2 linked regions of the Homo sapiens genome follow. The protein of the gene in region 1 purifies or fractionates together with the protein of each later gene. This does not show direct contact. Each region holds a gene or a part of one and is shown on either strand. Other genes may lie near its edges. The genes, in order: NOX5 and RNASEH2A.

What was found.
Region 2: the proteins of NOX5 (region 1) and RNASEH2A purify together in Homo sapiens (affinity purification with mass spectrometry, with the first as the bait; one large-scale study listed by BioGRID). This does not show direct contact.

The regions. Positions count from the first base shown.
Region 1 is NC_000015.10:69,024,572-69,028,394, reverse strand, and holds part of NOX5 (NADPH oxidase 5), read right to left. Parts: intron 1,868-3,823; coding exon 1,744-1,867; intron 181-1,743; coding exon 30-180; intron 1-29. Other genes in the region: SPESP1-NOX5 readthrough, read right to left, coding at 30-180, 1,744-1,867. UniProt on the Homo sapiens protein: Calcium-dependent NADPH oxidase that catalyzes the generation of superoxide from molecular oxygen utilizing NADPH as an electron donor. May play a role in cell growth and apoptosis.
Region 2 is NC_000019.10:12,809,556-12,812,156, reverse strand, and holds part of RNASEH2A (ribonuclease H2 subunit A), read right to left. Parts: intron 2,087-2,601; coding exon 1,949-2,086; intron 1,841-1,948; coding exon 1,753-1,840; intron 1-1,752. UniProt on the Homo sapiens protein: Catalytic subunit of RNase HII, an endonuclease that specifically degrades the RNA of RNA:DNA hybrids. Participates in DNA replication, possibly by mediating the removal of lagging-strand Okazaki fragment RNA primers during DNA replication.

The sequences.
Region 1 (3,823 bases):
CCCAGCCCACACCCAGGAAGAGCCCTTACCATCGATGTCATACACCTGGAAGAGGAATTTGAGTTTGTCCATGGGGCTGCCATGGATGAGCAGGGTCAGTGCCTCCTGCAGCTCCTGGAGGGTGATGGTGCCACTTCTATCGGAGTCAAATAGGGCAAAGAATCGCTCTGCAAAGAAGGACTGTGGGCGAGAAGGGTGGAAGACAGCACAACTGTGGCCGCAGGGCCTGGGCTTTGAATTTGTTCACTGTCTCCCTGTGTCTGGGGTGGTGGTGGGGGGGTGCACCACAGAGTGGCGGTATTCAGGCAGAACTCAGGTGCCTGAACACCCATCGTGATCTGCTCTAATGGAAGACCTGTTCCGATCCCTGCAGTAAGGATGGGCTTGGTTTGGACTTCAGGCCCCCTTCAGGCACTGGACTTTGTAATTTGCATGGGCTCTCTGTCCCCTACATACAATCACCCCCATCAGCCTTTAAATCCCAGCCTCTGGGTGGCCCCTTAACCAACATGGGAAAGGGTCAGACAGAGGGTCCTCCTGCAGGCTCCTTCCAGCCCTGTCTCACCCCACTTGGGGTGAGCGCAAGGGATGAGTGAATCTGGGAAGGACTTATAGATTCCACTGGAAGATCTGAGTCCTTTCTTTTGCTTGTTCTTAAGGCTGCCTACATTTTATACTTAAGGCTTGTTCTTAATCACCAGTTCACTCATTCATTCACTGAGCAGTCTTGTACTGTGTAGCCTCTGCCTGCCAGGCCTGGTGTTAGACCCTGGGAGCACAGAAATTAAGAAGACAGGCTTGGATGATGGGTGTCCCAAAGATGCTGTGTCCTGGGATGCTCCCCTCAAGGCAGGGGGAGGACCCTGTGGAGCTCTAGTGTCTGACTTAATAAAACTATGAGGGGTTCACAAGTATGAGGTATAGGCCGAAGTCCGCTGTGGACTGACAAAACTGCCACCTTGCCTTGGCTTTCTTCTTCATCCCCAGGATCCCTGGGTAGTACCTTTATCACTCTCTACCATCCCGAATGCTCTTTGTCTTAAGATGTTTTACACCCTCCCATTTGGATGGGATTGTATCATTAGGGAGAATGGGATTTTTTCCTTCCCCATATTTGCTGTGAAAGGAGGCGTGGCGTTAGAGTTCTTAGTAGTATCCCCAGGACCAGCAGGGGAGGGTCCTTCTGATTCAAGCAGGGCATTCAGATGCTCATCGGCTAGTCCCTGTCAAGGACCAGGCCACTATTCAATGCCAGTCCCAAGGACAGCTAGGAGAGGCTGGCATTTCAGACTCAGTCCTCCCTTCCGTGCTGATGTCTCCTCTGTGTGTCAGGGCATGCAGGCTGTGTGGGGTGGGCAGGGTAGCTATGGAGTCTGGAGGACTGGGAACAGTGTGCCACAGCAGACAGGACTTTAATAGGTATAGACCATTGACAAGCTTATCTTGAGAGGAAGCTTAAGTCAGAGCATCAGCTCTGCCCATGAGCCTAGTGGAAATTGTGAGGTTAATCATATTGCTTAAGATTTGACAAGCTACTGACTTCCAACTTCATGTGTTGAAGACCCAGGAGGCCATGACTATTAAGAGGAATGGGAGGGTGCCATAAACATCCCGCCAGCCCGCTACAAGGTGGAGACCTCAGGAACCCCAGGGAGTTCCCTTTCCCTCCCTGTAAGGGCTATGCCCTGAGAACCAGGCCACATAACGATAAATGCAGGGCTTCCACCTTGGCCCAACACTTGCCTCTTTCACATGCAGAGCTGCTTTGAATTCTTGCAGGCTGATCTCCCCATCTTCTCCTGCAATGGTCTTAAACTGCTGAGTCACCCACCGGAGCCACCTGGCATCCTCCTCGGCACTCATGGTGCTGGGAGGCAAAGGAAACAGGTTTATGGGCTTGGGGTGGCCAAAGCCTTATGAGGTCTCATGGTGGTCCCAGGGCCTCTGCCTTGCTCTAACTAGGGCCCTGAGCCTCCCTGAGTTGAATCGGGTCAATCAGTTCTGGCTGTGGATTGGAGCTTCCCACAGCCGTTTCTCCTCCTCCCTATGCCTCAGTCTCTTCCTCTTATCCTGAGTTGGCTGGCCCAGGCTTGCTTCTCTTTAGGTTCTGAAATGACAGGGCCCGAGTGAGGTGGACCCACACTGTGGGGATCAGGTCAGAGAGTGGCATGCTGCGACTGCATTAATTAACATCATGACAATGACTTTCCATCTTGCCTTTACACAGATCTTTACTGCTTTCCAAATATTTCCCACCACCACTACTTCCTTTGGTCTCTCTGACAGCCTGGTGGGCCAGGACATTTTGCAGAGAAGAAATAGGCTCAGAGCAATTAGGTAACTTAGCTAAATGTATTCAGCAAGTTAGAGACAGAGTTCAAATTCAAGTCCAGTGTTTTTTTCCATTCTGCCCCAAAGCCTCCACCCTCTGCTTAAATGCTTGTGATACAAGATGGATCAAGCCAGGATTCAGCCCTCAGGTCTTAACTCTTCAGGCCCAGGTTGTCTTCTATGATGTCACCAGGGTATTGGCTGTCTAAAACCCTCACAGATGGGCTGTCTGTACTATGATCTAAACAGAGGTGAGTGATGAAATTAGGACACTTCCCTAGCATTAGGACCCAGGAAACCAAAATTGAGGCAGTGAGTGAGGAGTTACAGATTCTTGTTGCTGTAAATGACTCCCTGGGAGAATGGCCTTGTCTATAGCTCATGAGTGTAACATAACCCTAAATGACTTAGCTACAGTAATCCTCATTCTTTGTGGATTTTGTATTTGCAAACCTGCCTACTTCCTAAAATTGATGTGTAACCCCTGAATCAGTACTCACAGCCCATCCGTAGTCATCTGTGGACATGCACAGAGCAGTGGAAACTGAGTCACCCAATGGCTTGCTCCCCACTGAGGCTGAGCAAGGCGACGATGCCTGCCTTCTTGTTTCAGCTCTCAGACAGTGAGTGTCCTTTTCATGATCTATCTAGTACTACATTTTTCACATTTTTGTGCTTTTTGTTGGTGTTTTCACTGTTTAAAACGGCTCCCAACCATAATGTTGCGGTGCTCTCTAGCATTTCTAAGCGAGCAAAGGCTGTACTGTGCAGTATGGAGGAAATACGTGTTAGGAAAGCTTCATTCAGGAACAAGTGACAGTGCTGTTGGCCATGAGTTCAATGTCAACGAATCAACAATACATATTTTAAAGGTGTCTTTAAATAGAAACACACATAAAACAAGGCAACTTATTGATCGTTTGACAAAAATATTGTGCCCTGAGGCTCACATGAGCCTAACTCTATATTTCCTTCTAAGAACAATGGTTCTGAATTCGCTAATTCAGCGTTTGCAGTGACTTTATAGAACATAAATGAGAATTGATTTTATTTTTAAAGACTAAATAAATATTAAAAATAAATGTAATAGTTTTCACATAAGCAACTAGACAAAGAATGAAATACATATCACACACATGTAAGTACATACTACTAAATATAAAGTCAGAAATTAAGGTATTAGAAAACCAAAAAAAGTCAAAATGATACATTTATTTCAATTATGGAAATGGTTTTACAGATGTATGCATATAATACTTCTCCCTTATCTGTGGGGGGATACTTTTTAAGCCCCTTAGTGGATGCCTGAAACTGCAAATAGTAGCAAACCCTATATAGACTATGTGTTTCCTATATAATACATACTTATGATAAAGTTTAATTTGTAAATTAGCTACAGTAAGAAATTAACAATAACTAGTAATAAAATAGAACAATTATAACAATATATAACAATATACTGTAATACAAGTTAAGTAAATGTGGTCTCTCT
Region 2 (2,601 bases), on another chromosome or scaffold:
GCTCAAGCCATCCTCTCACCTCAGCCTCCCAAGTAGCTGGGACTACAGGTGCGCACCACCACACCTAATTTTTGTATTTTTTGTAGAGATGGGGTCTTGTCATATTGCCCAGGCTGGTTGTGAATTCCTGAGTTCACATGATCTACCTGCCTCTGTCTCTTAAAATGCTAGGATTACGGGCATGAGCCACCTGGCCCAGCCTGTCATTAAATATTATTATTATTATTATTATTATTATTTTGAGATGGAATTTTGCTCATTTCCCAGGCTGGAGTGCAATTATGCGATCTCGGCTCACTGCAACCTCCACCTCCCAGGTTTAAGTAATTCTCCTGCCTCAGCCTCCCGAGTTGCTGGGATTACGGGCGTGTGCCACCACGTCCAGCTAATTTTGTATTTTTAGTAGAGATGGGGTTTCACCACGTTGGTCAGGCTGGTCTAGAACTCCTGACCTCAAAGGATCCACCTGCCTCAGCCTCCCAAAGTCCTGGGATTACAGGTGTGAGCCACCACGCCTGGCTAACATTATTTTTTTTTTTGACACAAGATCTCATCTTGTCACCAAGGCTGGAGTGCAGTGGCATAATCATAGCTCACTGCAGCCTCCAACTCCTGGGCTCAAGCAACCCACCCACCTTAGCCTCCTCCTCCAGAGTAGCTGGGACTACAGGTGGGCACCACTATAACCGGCTAATTTTTTAAATTTTTTATAGAGATGGGGGTCTCGCTATGTTGCCCAGGCTGGTCTTGAACTCGAGGACTCAAGCGGTTCTCCTACCTCAGCTTCCCAAAGTGCTGGGATTACAGGCATGAGCCACCACGCCTGGTCCCCTTCCCCTTAACAAAGGGACAAATGCCCACCTTGGGTCTCAGTCCATCACTGGGGCTCCAGAAAGACAGCAAAGTGGGAAGCGGGGAAGACAGCAGCAATCCTATGGCCTGGAATTCAGCTCTATCACTCACTGGCTGTGTGGCCATAAACAAATGGCACCACTGTCTAACACTTGGCCTCTTTCACTGTGGAGTAGGGTGACCAGAGCAATTTAGAAAACCTCCAGCCAGGCACAGTAGTTCACACCTGTAATCCTAGCTATTTGGGAGTCCAAGGCAGGAGGATCACTTAAGCCCAGGAATTCAAGACCAGGCTGGGCAACATAGGGAGACCCCATCTCTTTAAAAAAAGAAGAAAAAAAGGGCCAGGGGTGGTGGCTCATGGCTGTAATCCCAGCACTTTGAAAGACCAAGGTGGGAGGACTGCTTGACTCCAGGAATTTGAGACCAGCCTGGGCAACATGACAAGACCCCATCTCTATAAAAACAAAAAATAGGCTGGGCACGGTGGCTCATGCCTGTAATCCCAGCACTTTGGGAGGCTGAGCCAGGCAGATCACCTGAGGTCAGGAGTTCAAGACCAGCCTGACCAACATGGAGAAAACTAGTCTCTACTAAAAACACAAAATTAGCTGGGTGTGGTGGCACATGCCTGTAATCCCAGCTACTCGCGAGGCTGAGGCAGGAGAATCGCTTGAAGCCAGGAGGTGGAGGTTGCGGTGAGCCGAGATCGCACCATTACACTCCAGCCTGGGCAAAAAGAGCGAAACTCCGTCTCAAAAAATAAACAAAAATAACAAATAAAAACAAAAAATAAGCAAAATAAAATGATAAATGACAGAAAGGAAAAAAAGAAAACCTCAGAAGTGTGCTCAGCCCTGGCCATTTCAACATTAGTACCATGGTCACGTGTCTGCTCACCATTGGGGTAGCCTGAGCCATAATCAGTATCCAAGTCCTGCAGTTTCTCCACGAACTGCCATTTCTTCACGGCCTGGTCCCGGGCCACCTGTGGGCAAAACAGGCACCTGGAATCTCCCTCCTTCCCTTTGGTGGCCATGCCTGGCCCCTATATAGTGGGATGGTGGAAGCCAGCCATGGCTAGTAGGGTACTGACCTTGGCACAGATGCTGGCAGCACTAACCACCGGGTAGAGGGCATCTGCTTTGGCCTTGACCGTCACCTCAATCCCGGGAAAACTTTGCTGCAGCCGCGCCTGGTATGTCTCTGGCATCCCTACGGTGTCCACGAATACCTGCCACAGCAACAGACACATATTAATTGAACAAACAACTGTACCAATGCTCTAGCCTCACAGCCCTGGCACGTTCTTCCTGCTACCCAGAATCCTCTTCTCCAGCACGTCCCCAGGATGGATCAATCAGGGATTTCAACTCGAACATCTCCTCCTAGACCAGGCAAAGTTGTTCAGGCCTGTGATCCCAGCACTTTGGGAGGCTGAGGCGGGAGGATCGCTTGATCCTGGGAGTTTGAGGCCAGGCTTGGCAACACAGTGAGACCCCATCTTTATAAAAACATAAAATAAATACAATAAAATAAAGAAAAAACTCACCTCCTGAAGAGGCTTTCTCTATCACGCTGCTTTTACTCTAACTTATTTAGCACCTACTGCATGCCACATACTGTTCTAGGAACTGAGGTGGCAGAAAACACTAGAAAAAAATTGGTAGAGTGCGTTAGCACAAGCCTGTAATCCCAACACTTTAGGAAGCCGAAGTGGGAGGATCGCTTGAGGGCAGGTGGTTGAGA